Linked DNA regions of Homo sapiens: regions 1, 3 and 4 are each reported to be linked to region 2. The links are microRNA targets in miRTarBase. Many come from high-throughput screens and were not tested one by one. Region 2 holds a microRNA gene; each other region holds the end of a gene's coding sequence.

What was found. The annotated mature microRNA hsa-miR-4253 reads AGGGCAUGUCCAGGGGGU and lies in region 2 at 2,000-2,017, shown strand. An mRNA with a match to its seed (bases 2 to 7 or 8) in the 3' UTR can be bound and repressed. Matches are read on the target gene's strand: a 7mer-m8 pairs with bases 2 to 8, a 7mer-A1 pairs with bases 2 to 7 and ends in A, and an 8mer does both.
Region 1: the mRNA of SPATA2 is a reported target of hsa-miR-4253. Seed matches in the 3' UTR shown: 7mer-m8 at 1,080-1,086.
Region 3: the mRNA of MDK is a reported target of hsa-miR-4253. Seed matches in the 3' UTR shown: 7mer-m8 at 735-741.
Region 4: the mRNA of TGFBRAP1 is a reported target of hsa-miR-4253. Seed matches in the 3' UTR shown: 7mer-A1 at 243-249.

Annotation. Positions count from the first base shown.
Region 1 is chr20:49,902,643-49,905,975 of GRCh38, reverse strand. It overlaps SPATA2 (spermatogenesis associated 2), which reads left to right. Exons shown (of 3, transcript NM_006038.4): 3 at 1-2,585. The coding sequence ends at 357. Among named protein-coding and RNA genes, the nearest start is that of SPATA2, 11 kb to the left of the region's middle.
Region 2 is chr1:22,862,186-22,865,185 of GRCh38, reverse strand. It overlaps MIR4253 (microRNA 4253), which reads left to right and starts at 1,960; the gene lies at 1,960-2,027. EPHB2 (EPH receptor B2) reads right to left here. Exons shown (of 16, transcript NM_017449.5): 4 at 1,994-2,149; 5 at 1-309. RefSeq lists a silencer at 1-161.
Region 3 is chr11:46,382,883-46,386,215 of GRCh38, forward strand. MDK (midkine) reads left to right here. Exons shown (of 5, transcript NM_002391.6): 5 at 587-919. The coding sequence ends at 612. CHRM4 (cholinergic receptor muscarinic 4) reads right to left here. Exons shown (of 2, transcript NM_000741.5): 2 at 907-3,333. The coding sequence ends at 2,236. Among named protein-coding and RNA genes, the nearest start is that of MDK, 2.9 kb to the left of the region's middle.
Region 4 is chr2:105,264,364-105,267,696 of GRCh38, forward strand. TGFBRAP1 (transforming growth factor beta receptor associated protein 1) reads right to left here. Exons shown (of 12, transcript NM_004257.6): 12 at 51-3,196. The coding sequence ends at 3,020. Among named protein-coding and RNA genes, the nearest start is that of GPR45, 24 kb to the left of the region's middle.

The DNA of each region.
Region 1 (3,333 bases), not on the chromosome of region 2:
ACCTGTCCTCCAGCTTCCAAGCCCAGCGCCTTCCCCAGCAAGGCCTCGACTCATGACAGCCTGGCCCACGGGGCATCTCTGCGGGAGAAGTACCCAGGCCAGACTCAGGGCCTCGACCGCCTCCCGCACCTTCACTCCAAATCCAAGCCCTCCACCACGCCCACTTCCCGCTGTGGCTTCTGCAACCGCCCAGGCGCCACCAACACCTGCACCCAGTGTTCAAAAGTCTCATGTGACGCCTGCCTCAGCGCTTACCATTATGACCCCTGCTACAAAAAGAGTGAGCTGCACAAGTTCATGCCCAACAACCAGCTGAACTACAAGTCCACCCAGCTCTCCCATCTCGTGTACAGATAGACCGGCCTCGCCCCTTCCAGCTCCAAGGGCTACATCAACCGACCTTTCGGGTTTCACGGTGAAGAAGTACTAACGCATTGATCTCAGAGGCGGAGGCCTGCACTTGACCATGTAGGTGGCAGAGATCGTGGGCTGGCTGTGTCCACGTGGGAGTTCACTTAGCGACTCAGATATCTCAACCAATGGCTGCTTTGTTGTCTGACAAGGGAGAAGGTGGCACTTCCGTTCAGATTCATTTTGCTAATCTCTCCACTCCCTGTTCAGTTGGTTCTTTTTTTGGGGTTTTGTTTTGTTTTGTTTTGTTGTTTTGTTTTTTCCTTTAAAGAGGATTTCTGTCTCTGGGACCCTCGCTGCACCTACCCCTCCCATTGCAAAGCCAACTTGGACTGGGAAGGGCCCTTCAGGTCACCAAACATCCACCTGGAGCGGCGAGCTAGAGGCCTGTTGGCTTGTGAAATGAGCCCTCCTGCCACACGGGGCCTCTCCCAAAGGCTCATCCCTTGGCCGCCCCCTTCCTAAACACAAGGATCCCCAGCTGGACTCCCCACCCCCTGGCTTCCCCACCTCTCCAGGTGTCAAAGGTGAACCGAGTCCAGTATTAGCTGAATGTCATTTCGTACACCACAGCTCAGTCAGCCCATGGCCTTCGTGAACTTTGCTCCAACACACTGATGTGTGGGCTTCCCACAGCAGGACTGACTTCCCCCTTTCTGTTGTTTGCACATGCCCCTCTTACTGTACTGTCAATAGATATTTTTGAGATTTATTTTTAAATAAATATTCAACTTGCTGTGTGTTTCAACGTGGTTAAAAAAATGAATTATGTAGCTATTTATTAAATGCCCTGGGTTCTTTAGTCTTCCAAGGGAGGGCCTCGCGCCCATTCGTGTTGTATCCTCCACTCACTATGGCCCGAGGGGAGAGGAGAGTTTGGGGCAGGGAGGAACAGACATGAAGCCTCCTTTTCTTGAGCTGGTGGAGAGCCACTGTCTTCCCTGCAGTAACTATCTATACACCTACCTCCAGTGTGCACTTAGGGGGTGAGCGCGGGTGTCGAGGTCTGTGTGTCTGCAGACTGCTAACCTATGACAATTCAGGGACCTCACCTGTCGGACCTATAGCTTGCTGAGCAGGAACCTTGCACTTCACACTTCTTGAGTCTCGTTTCAGAAGGAAAATCATTTGGGATTCCTACTGCCCCTCCATCTCAATCCTCTTCTCTTCACCAGTTTCCAGGACTCATCTGCAACATTTGCAATCTTTTTGCACTAAAAGTGGGCAGGAGTCGGCATGTGCCCATCAGAGAGACGGCTCCTCAGATGCTCAGCTAAGCCTAAGCGCTTCCAAGCCTGAAGGCCCCTTCAGCTTCTCATGTGAATTACCAACCCCTGGATTTTCCTTGTGGGGGTACAAGAGCAGGAGTGGGGCAAGAGTTTGAAAATAAAGCCGCTTCCTTGTGAACTAACTATATTTTAGCCATAACTGTTTGTGATGTACACAATGTTAAGGGATTTATATGCAGTGGGCTTTTCTGGGAGAAAGTTATTCAGCTCTTGAGCAAGTTTAAGTCTGGCTGAATCCTGAGGCCACTGTGAATTTGCTGATGTTCTTCCAACTCAGTTGAGTGATTTTAAGGTTTTCCAAATCTTCTATGGCTCTCTTTTTAATATATATATATATATATATATATATATATATATATATATATATATATATCTATCTGGTAGATCACATGTAGATGTACAGTGTGTATATTAAGCTGAATTTCAACCAACTTTATTACTAAGACCAGCCTAGCAGGGCATTCATCTTTGATGTTCTTCCTTTTCACATTTCAGAATCGGCAATGCCTGGCCCACTCCTGAGAGCTCTAGTTTTCTAGTTTTCCATTTCCAGATTGCGCCAGCATTACAGTAACTAACTCTTTCTAACCAACCGTGATGCCACGTAACTTACCCTATGGACAAAAGCAGGAATGACTAACACATCCTAGGAGGGAAAGTCCAGTGTACCTGTCATCACGGACGCACTGTGGTCACAGACTGGAATACGAAATACTACAGCCCTGCTCCCAGGTGTGCATCTTACTGGATGAGGTTGCTGTGATTGAGATAGTTAAATACATGCTAATTTAAAAATGCAGATGTTTTACATTTGATTTCTACCAAGAGTTGAAATGTTGAGAGATGATTAAAAATAATAATAATAAAGTGTCTTCCATTGTTAAATGAAGTGTTTGGGGTTTTATGTCCCCTGGCCCTGCTTTGAAGTTTGGTTACTTGGGAGTTTATTTTTCCTTAAGCTGTATTTAGTTTTTTAATGACAAGACTTAAATTTTCTCTTCCATGAAACTGACAAATAGCATTTGAGTGCTATACTGCGAGCCTGGCACTTTTTATTTTTTTAATTTTTTGTAAAAAAAATTTTTTTTTTTTTCGAGACGGAGTCTTGCTCTGTCGCCCAGGCTGGAGCACAGTGGCGCTATGTCAGCTCACTGCAAGTTCCGCCTCTTGGGTTCACGCCATTCTCCTGCCTCAGCCTCCCAAGTAGCTGGGACTACCACACCTGGCTAATTTTTCGTTATTTTTAGTAGAGACGGGATTTCACTGTATTAGCCAGGATGGTCTCGATCTCCTGTCCTCGTGATCTGCCTGCCTCGGCCTCCCAAAGTGCTGGGATTATAGGTGTGATCCACTACGCCCGGCCATGTTTTTTTTTTTTAGTTTAAGACGGGCTCTGTTACTTCCCAGTCTGGAGTACGGTTGTGTGATCATGGCTAGCTGTAGCCTGGACCTCTTGGACTTGAGTGATCCTCCCACCTCAGCCTCCCAAGTAGCTACAGGTGGGCACCACTATGTCTGGCTAATTTTAATTTTTTGTAGAGGTGGGGTCTCACTATATTGCCCAGGCTGGTCTCAATCTCCTAGGCTCGAGTGATCCTCCCGCCAGGCATTTGTATCCTGAGACTATGTGCAT
Region 2 (3,000 bases):
AGGCGAACTGAGGCGAGAAGGGGCTCTGGTCAGTAACGCCGTTCACAGCCTGGATCTCGAAGGTGTACTGGGTGTGGGCCAGCAGGTCACTGATGTAAATGCGTGGCTCGGTCAGGCCTAGCTGGCGTGGTGCGTACTGTACATTGTCCCCGCAGCGGGTGCAGGCACCCCGGCCCGAGCCACAGCTCTTGCAGATGATGTTGTAGACGAGGTCCTCTCGGCCTCCGGAGTCGCGGGGAGGGGTCCACTCCAGCATGAGGGAGGTCTCATTGACACTGGAAATCACAGCCTGGGGCGCGGAGGGGATGGCTGGGGCGGGGGAGAGGTGTTGGTCAGTGGGGGGCTCAGGGGGTACTATTCCCCATGTGACCACTCTGTGCCCGCTGCTCTGGCTCAGCCCCTCTGAAAGGACTTCCTTAAATTCTTTGTCCTGTCTCCCCACCAGAGAAATGTTTCTAGAATACAAGTTAGCCTGCTGTACATCTGCCCAAACCTTTCTCTCCTCCCAGCTTACAAACTGCTCAGTGTTTGTTACTGAGGATAGTATTTTTGCGTTTGGAATTATACCTGCCCAGTATCTATTTTCTCCTTCTTCCTTAGAACAGCCCAGCTTTATTCATGGTGGCAATATGTCCAGCTAAAAGATGGCATTTCCCAGCCTCCTGTGTTTAAGTGCTTGCCACTGATATAGAGCAGAAGTTGTTGACTAGGGCTGTTTCTTTAAAAAGAGACAGACAGCTATGGCGTGTCCCTTTGTCCTTTCCCTGCTTCTGCTGCCTAAAATGTGGGTGATGGCTGGGACTTCAGCAGCTATGCTGGACTATGAAGTGACGTTAAGAACAGAAACAACAGTGGCTAACACCTGTAATCCCAGCACTTTGGGAGGCCGAGGCAGGCGGATCACCTGAGGTCAGGAGTTCAAGACCAGCCTGGCCAACATAGGAAACCCCGTCTCTACTAAAAATACAAAAAATTAGCCGGGCATGATGGCGGATGCCTGTAATCCCAGTTACTCGGGAGGCTGAGGTGGGAGAACCACTTGAACCCGGGAGGTGGAAGTTGCCATGAGCTGAGATCATGATGCCATTGCATTCCAGAGCCTGGGCGACAGAGTGAAACTCCATCTCAAAAAAAAAAAAAAAAAAAAAAAAGAACAGAAACTAGGTTGGGCGTGGTGGCTCATGCCTGTAATCCAGCACTTTGGGAGGATGCGGGAAGATTCCTTGAGCCCGGGAGTTCAAATCTAGCCTTGGCAACATAGCGAGACCCTGTCTCTACAAAAAATTAGAAAAATTAGCTGGGTGTGGTGGTGCACGCCTGTAATCCCAGGTATTCAGGAGGCTGAGGGCAGAAGGCTGAGGGCACCTGAGCCCAGGAGGTTGAGGCTGCAGTGAGCTAGGATTATGCCATTCTGAATGGCAGAAAGAGCCAGGCCCCAAAGGCCATCGTGGATTGCCCATACTGTCCCAGGACTGTCTACCTTGGGCTCCTTTTGGGTGAGAGAATAAATCCGTACAGTTTCAGCCATAGGGCTCAGCTCTGTTACTTACAGCTGAATGCCATCCCTGACAGATACAGGGGTTGTGACGCTGCGTTCTCAGGCAGTGCCTTCCTAGAGGACCTTGGGCTGTGATTCAGGCAGCTGCTGCCAGGTTAGAACACTGGGCAGCCTTTTCTGCCACATATACTACCTGTGTTGCTTCATCTCCTGCCAAGCCTCCCATCCCCTGTCCCTTTGTGAATCCAGACCTTGACTTTATCTTCCATGTGACTCAGCAGAAGGGGGTAAGGAGCCAGATGCCAGCACTGTGGTGTCTGCAAGGTGGGAGCATGGCCACCCCAGGATGCCCCTTTCTTGAGCACTTTTCCATTTCTCTTCCCACCAGGGAAAGACTGGCTGTAACCGGACGGCACCCAATCCTCACTCTGAGCTTTTCTGCAGGTAGACCTGGGACTCGGCCAGCCATCGCCCTTGAGGGGCCCTAGGACTTACTTGTGCAGGGCATGTCCAGGGGGTCCAGGTCTGCTCTGTAGTAGCCATTGCGGCAGACACAGTTGGTGGCCCCTTCAGAAGTGGTCCGGCTGTTGATGGGACAGTGGGTACAGGCCTCATCCCCTTGGTTGGCCTTGAAAGTCCCAGATGGACAACCTGAGAGAGAAGACAAGGAGAGTCACCAGGAAACTGGATGAAGACTCAGAGAGGTCACGAGCCACGCAGCCTCACGGAGGGGCCACACAGCCTCGCGGAGGGGCCATGCAGCACCACTGCTGGAAAATCTCATCTCTTGAAGGGTTTGAAGTCTCCAGGCCCCAACGTGGGAGTTCTAATTCTGTCAGGGCTCCCTAGTTTCTTGTCCGTGAGCTGTCTAGGGCTCCCAGCAATCTTCCCTCACCTATCCCAGCTTGGCTGTGTCATGGTCTCTAGAATCAATCCTGACCTAGTTAGGAGGCACATCTGAAGATGTCTGGGGCAGTGTGCATGGGTCCTGGTCTTGCTTAATAATGTCTGGCTGGGCCCTGATTCTTAGAACTAGATCCTTGGGTTACAGACAATTAAGATGATTATACGGCAGAAGAAAAGTCCTAGGGCAGTGTAGAGAGGTGATGTGGTAGAATAGAGGAGGACACTACTTTTGGAATAAGACCGACCTGGCTTTGAGTACTGGCTAGGCCTTTTACTAGCTGTGCAGCCCCAGACAAGCTGCTTAACTACTCAGACTCAGTTTTCTTATTTGTAAAATTAGGATTCTAAGGCCCATCTCTGCAGGGTCATTGTGAGTATTCTGCTTAAGCGTAAGGCCCATGGCACAAGGCCTTGCACAGTATAGGTGCCCAATGAATATGTGATCAATTTATTAAAATATTAATAAAAGGCGGGCCTGCAGTACCAGGGCCAGCCTAAGGAGGGCACTGCTTGCACTCGGCCCTCATTTGGCTTCTCCCATGGGCTGTGGCCATCATCCCTGATATGGAGTCCACCCCCACTGTAGCTCTGAGTAT
Region 3 (3,333 bases), not on the chromosome of region 2:
GCTTCCCTGCCTGGAAAAGTCTGAAGATGGGCACTACAAGAGAGGCCGCAGGTGATGCTGGGGACATAAATCCTCCCTGGCCCAAATAGGGACCAACTCAAACTACTCCATTGGAGCATCTGGCTTAGGACCCAGGGAGAGTGTCCTGGAACGGCTTGCCTTTGTCAGCTCTCCAGCCACGGGCAGCATTTGGTCAGCTCTGCCCTTTCTAGTGTTGGGAGGAGGTCAAGGCCCACCCTGGGCCTCTCAGCTCACTCGTGACTCAGCCCAGCGAGGCCAGCAGGGCAGGGGTGAATCTGCCCGCTTCTCAGGTGAGGAGGCTGAGGATGCCCAGGGCTGCTGTGACCAGGACTAGGACTGGAAACTTGAAGGTTTTCTGATCCCAAGTGGAAATAGGAAGCTGGGGATGTCCCATGTCCACATCACAATGGCTGCCCCATCCCCTGCTTCCGAGTCAGCTGATTGGAAACCACTAGGGGGCAGAATCTTCTCCTTCCCTGATGCCCGGGTGTTTGTGGAGCCGGCGGTCTGCAATGGGTCAGCCTAACTGCTGATATGGTATTAATATTTCTTTCTTGTTTTACAGCCAAGAAAGGGAAGGGAAAGGACTAGACGCCAAGCCTGGATGCCAAGGAGCCCCTGGTGTCACATGGGGCCTGGCCCACGCCCTCCCTCTCCCAGGCCCGAGATGTGACCCACCAGTGCCTTCTGTCTGCTCGTTAGCTTTAATCAATCATGCCCTGCCTTGTCCCTCTCACTCCCCAGCCCCACCCCTAAGTGCCCAAAGTGGGGAGGGACAAGGGATTCTGGGAAGCTTGAGCCTCCCCCAAAGCAATGTGAGTCCCAGAGCCCGCTTTTGTTCTTCCCCACAATTCCATTACTAAGAAACACATCAAATAAACTGACTTTTTCCCCCCAATAAAAGCTCTTCTTTTTTAATATATAAAAGCCCCTTCCCAAGGAGTTTGCTGTGGAAATGTGTTTGGGAGTGGGAAGGTGGGGAGAAAGACCAGGCTGTAGGGACTGGTGGGTTTCAGGGGGCTTGGTGGTGGGTGCTCTCCAGAGCTCATGGAAAAAGCAGAACAATTACAAACATTTCTTCCAGGGCCCCTGAAAGGGTGCTCCCCATCAAGTCACCTAAGCCTTTCGGTCCTCATCTCCCTCAGGGACCAGGGCTGGGGAAGGGAACCTGGCTGACTCACTGGAACCACCACACCCATCTCAGCCTCACCCAGTCAAAGGTCTTTTGATACAACCCACAGCCAATCAGGAAGGTTCTACCCATGGGGGAGAGCAGATGCGAGGGCTGCGTGCCTACCTCACTGCCCACCTCCCCCCTTCCCACTGTCATGGAAACCCGAGTGAGCCACCAGGTTGACCCCTTTCCTCTTGCCTGTGTGACCCAGGCCTCCACCCTGCAGAAGCCAGGGGGTGAGAGGTTTGAAGAGGGCAGATGGGAATGCCATCCACCACAGCCTCACCCTGACTCGATGTGTGACCTGGGACAGCCTTCTAAGGCCGGGGCTGCAGGGGGCTGTCTTCTGAATACGTGGACCACTCACGGCTCAGCCTGGGATCGCAGAAGGCCAGACCTCAGTTCCTGAGACAGAACCTCTGACCTCCCAGCTGCCCCATCTTAATGTGACAAGGGCAGTGCTGCTGGGGCGGGGGGGACCTGGCCTCCATCATACCCACCCAGAACCTGGCTAAGTAGCTGCAGCCAGAGGAGATTTCTGCCCCTGGAGTGGGATTTGGGGAGAGGGGGCTGAGCCTACATGCGGGGTGCAAGGGGGCAGAAAGCACCGATTACAGCAGAATGGGGGACCCCACCCTTCTACTCCCTTCCCAAGCCTCCTTTTCCAAGCACTGGCCCCTTTGTTCTTCCTGAGGGGGCCCTGGGCTTCGGCCCCCATCCAGATGTCCATTCTTCCAGCACTGCTGATGGTTGGTCACAGTGGGGCAGGTGCCCACCCAGGCCAGTGCCCCGCAGCTCGCTGAAGCAGGGCCACAGAGGTGGGCCAGGCAGCCCCAGTTCAGACACTCCCTGGGGTGAGCCTCCTCAGCCTGAGCAGAGATCTGGTCTCTGAATGCAGCCACAGAGCCTCTTCTGAACTTCCTCCTCAGCAAACGTGAACGCAGAATGGTGCCTGCAACTCTTCCCCACAGCAAGTGAGCCGTGTGGTCCCCCCAGCACACGCACGCAACACCAGCACCTCCTAGGGCACTCCTGCCTGCCTACCTGGCAGTGCCGATGTTCCGATACTGGCACAGCAGCAGGTGCCGGAAGGTCTTTTTAAAGGTGGCGTTGCACAGAGCATAGCAGGCAGGGTTGATGGTGCTGTTGACGTAGCAGAGCCAGTAGCCAATGGACCACACCGTGTCAGGGATGCAGCTCTGGCAGAAGGTGTTCACCAGGACCATGACGTTGTAGGGCGTCCAGGTGAGGATGAAGGCTAGCAGAATGGCAAAGATCGTTCGTGTCACTTTGCGCTCCCGGGCCGCCATCTGCCGCTTCTTGCGCACCTGGTTGCGAGCGATGCTGGCGAACTTGCGGGCCACGTTGGCCGCAGGGCGCATGCCAGCCGGCGTGGCAGGCACAATCTCAATGGCTGTCACACACTCATTGCCTGTCTGCTTCGTCACAATCTGGATCTTGGACCATCTGGAGGCTGGGTTGAGGGCCCGCGGCTGCAGGGGAGGGGCGGGCATGGCGGGCGTGGTGGCCTCTGTGGTGGACAGCTCTGTGGCTGGGCGTTCCTTGGTGTTCTGGGTGGCACTGCCTGAGCTGGACTCATTGGAAGTGTCCTTATCAGCCACGGGGCGCGGTGGCGGTGGCAGCGCTGGCGGGGGGGCCTCCTCCAGCTTGCCATTGCGCAGCTCCTCCCGGGCGGCCTCCCCGGGCGGGGGCTTCTTGACGCTCTGCTTCATTAGTGGGCTCTTGAGGAAGGCCAGCGTCTTGGCTTTCTTCTCCTTCGGGCCCTCGGGCCGGTGCTTGTGGACTCGGCTGCGACTGGCCAGGGAGATGTGGATGTACAGCACCGTCATGATGACCACAGGCAGGTAGAAGGCAGCAATGGCTGTGCCAAAGGTCACTGCTGGGTTGGACAGGAACTGGATGAAGCACTGGTTGTCGGGCACCGTCCGCTTACCCACCACAAACTGCCAGAACAAGATGGCAGGCGCCCAGAGCACGAAGGACAGTACCCAGGCAGCAGCAATCATGAGGCCTGCCATCTTGGTGGTGCGCCGGGCAGGGTAGGTGAGAGGCTTGGTGACGCAGAAGTAGCGGTCAAAGCTGATGATGAGAAGGTTCATGACGGAGGCGTTGCTCAC
Region 4 (3,333 bases), not on the chromosome of region 2:
TTCTAGAACTCTTTATTTAGACTAGGTATGGTGCGAGTGAAAACCATCACTCCATCAAGGCAATTTTTATTTTAAAAAATTACAGAAAGAACAAAGAACTAAAAGAATTTTAATAAAATGAGCAAGTTTACATTTGTACATTTTGTGTATCTGGGACCCAATCGGGACAAAGGATAAAGTTGCAAGGACAAAGGTTTCTGTGGGAGAGCAAGCAAAAAGCAAGGGCTGCCCCAGTTGCATCATGGGCATCCATTCAGAGCTGGGACCCCGCAGCCACCTGCCTGTGCTCCGGAAGTGAGAAGCACATGTAAGCACGCGTCAGTGAGAGCGTCGCAGTTGAACTCAGCCCAGTGCAACGCAGCCTGAGTGACATCCCTACATTAATACTTGATAGGGAACAGCAGATAAACAGTTCCAAAAACCAAATGGTATTGCCCATAGAATATGAATGTAAACTGAGTTCAGTTCATGCTGTTTTAACCAGAATGGTTCCACTGAACCTAATGAGGGGAAAAAGGTCTGATGGATCTAATTGCTCTATTCGATGGCACAGTTACAAATCAGCAGGCCTGTGAGAAAGAACCATACATTTCTCTCAGAAATATGATTTGAGAAAAGGGCCTTGTAGGAGTGAGAGAAAGGTTAGAGAAAAGTACAGTTTTAACATATGAGACAATTCTTCATACTGTAATAGAATGCTGCTTGTGGTGAAGGATTTGGTAGAGATGGAAAACTGCTCAACTTTAATTCCCATTATTCTAAAGGATGACAAACATTTTAGAGTATTGATCAATGTTCAGTGAAAAAATAAAAATGACTAGTGTTGGCTGGGCGCAGTGGCTCACGCCTGTAATCCCAGCACTTTGGGAGGCCGAGGCAGGCAGATCACGAGGTCAGGAGACCGAGACCATCCTGGCCAACATGGTGAAACCCCGTCTCTACTAAAAATACAAAAATTAGCTGGGCGTGGTGGCATGCACCTGTAGTCCCAGCTACTCGGGAGGCTGAGGCAGCAGAATCGCTTGAACCCAGGAGGTGGAGGTTGCAGTGAGCCGAGATTGCGCCACTGCACTCCAGCCTGGGTGACAGAGTGAGACTCTGTCTGTGTGTTAGGAATGAGAAATTACTAAGTTTTTTCAAGATTTTACCCATTTTGTGTACAGAGAAATAAGCTTTTAATGGCGCAATGTTGCATATACGGGTAACTTGTTCTTTGAGAAATATAAACTCAAACTCACAAGTTGTCATGATAACATATGCAGTAATATGACCATTCTACAACAGAGTCACCCACAGGTAAAACACATGACTGGGCTTTGAGCTCACACCAATTTACACAGCATACAGTTGTGCTACAAGGAGAATTTCTTCATCATTTATTCTTTAGTTAATTGAAACATAGTCAGGAAAAAATGGTGCCAATTCCCCCCAAACAACACATGGATGTTTTTGCTTCTTGACCCACTTAGAGTCCCAAAAGGACAAAAAATACATGGACCAATATTAGTTCACGAAACATGTTTTAAAGAACAGAGAATGAGGTCTTCATCCCACCTCAGTAAGGCTTGGGCTGATGAAGAGAGGGTGTATTCAGGGTCCTCTCTTGTCATATGTACAAGCTGACGCTTGTTTCCCAAGCATGATAGTAGTGGGTAGACTGCCTTTATTGTTAGCCCCTAATAGAATCAGTCAGCACAATGAAGAAATTCCAAAGAGGGCAGTGAAGTGACAACAGCTTCAGCTCGTCATCGATGTTATACAGAAACACAAAAGGAATCCCCGGCCTGTGATGAAGGAGAGGCCGTTGCTGTGTGTTCAGGACACCTCAGAGCAGGCACATAAAGTGCTGGAGGGTGACACAGCCTGTCTGGATGTCCTCGGGAGGGTGTGCCATCCAGGAGGCGACACCCCCATCCAGCACACGGGCCCTTCCACCCGCTGTCGGTCCTGCTAAAGGTACGAGGCTAAAACCGGCCTCTCCAGAAAAGAACGCTCAGTGTGTGCTGACCACACTTCCCTTTGAATTTCCCGAGTATTCAACAGGAGATACATTTTAACAAGAAAAAATACCCCTAACAAACAGGACAGATGACTCTCTCAACAAGAGAGCAACTACGAACATGATACAAATTTAAATAAAAATGTTTAGTTCAACGTGTTCGTCATGGAGTTTCAAATCAGCAGATGCCATGACAGGAAAGGAGCACACAGCTGGGCCCTTGCCCGCCGTGGGTTTCCCGTGTCCGCGGCTTCTTCAAGGAGGGGAGAGCAGCTTCTCTCTTGGAGCGTTCTCAGTTTCTCAACAGATCTTCACTTGCTAGGCAGCCAGAAGCATTAGTTCACCCAAGAGTGAGTGCTTGGGTACACAAGGCAGAATCTTTTGGGAGCTGAGAGCCGGAGAGGAAGAAAGAAGGAACAAAGGTACTTCTCCAGGGTCAGCCGTTTCTGAGGGCAAAGGCAGAGCCCACGAGGTAACCCTGGGAAATGGGCCCATGAGTGAGCGGCGTGGATGGAGAACGTGTTTCTGCAGGAGGGCAAGGCTGACCCCCATGAGGCTCTGTGCCCTCGCCACTCACCCAGGCAAGAGAGGACTTTGTCGCCAGCCATGGTGAAGCCACGTTTCCAGTGCAAACATGAGTCTAAAGGTTGGAGTGTGGGGGTGGTGGGGGATCCCCCACCTGGGTCTGGACTGCATGAGGAAGACTCCCTTTTTTTTTTTTTCAAAGTAGACCTCTGTCTTGGATTACTATGTACCTGGACAGGTGAACTCTTGTATGTTTCTGTTTTGGGGATTTTTAGGGGTTTTCCATGTACATTCATAGAGCCTGGTCATTCCATGTACATTCATAGAGCCTGGTCAGCAGCGAGGAGTCCTTGTTGCGTATGGACGGAAGGCTCCCTGGCACCCAGATGTCTCCCTTCGTCCTGGCTGACACAGAGCATGGTGGTCATCTGCTCTTCATGTCCAGCAGGCTCAGAAAGAACTCGGAGTTCCCCTCGCACCCTTGGGCCAAGCTTTTCAAGTCCGAGTGCCAGGACTGGATGAGCTGGGGTTTGTGTGTCTGCTGGCGGCACAGTGGGTGTGCACAAGACCACCATTTGGGTATCTAACAAACACAGGCTCACAAAAGGGATTTTGGCATATCTGACAAAGCTTTTTGTCTGAGAGTTGGATTGAGCTTCCTTTCAACTTCATCTGCAAGAAGAAACCAAGACTGAGAATGCTGTCATGTGTTAAGTATATTTAAAGTGGCTACGTTCTAGTTTTGCAGAGTTGACATGCATTACTCCATGGGTTATTATTATGATGAGGATTTCTTTAATATCAACTTC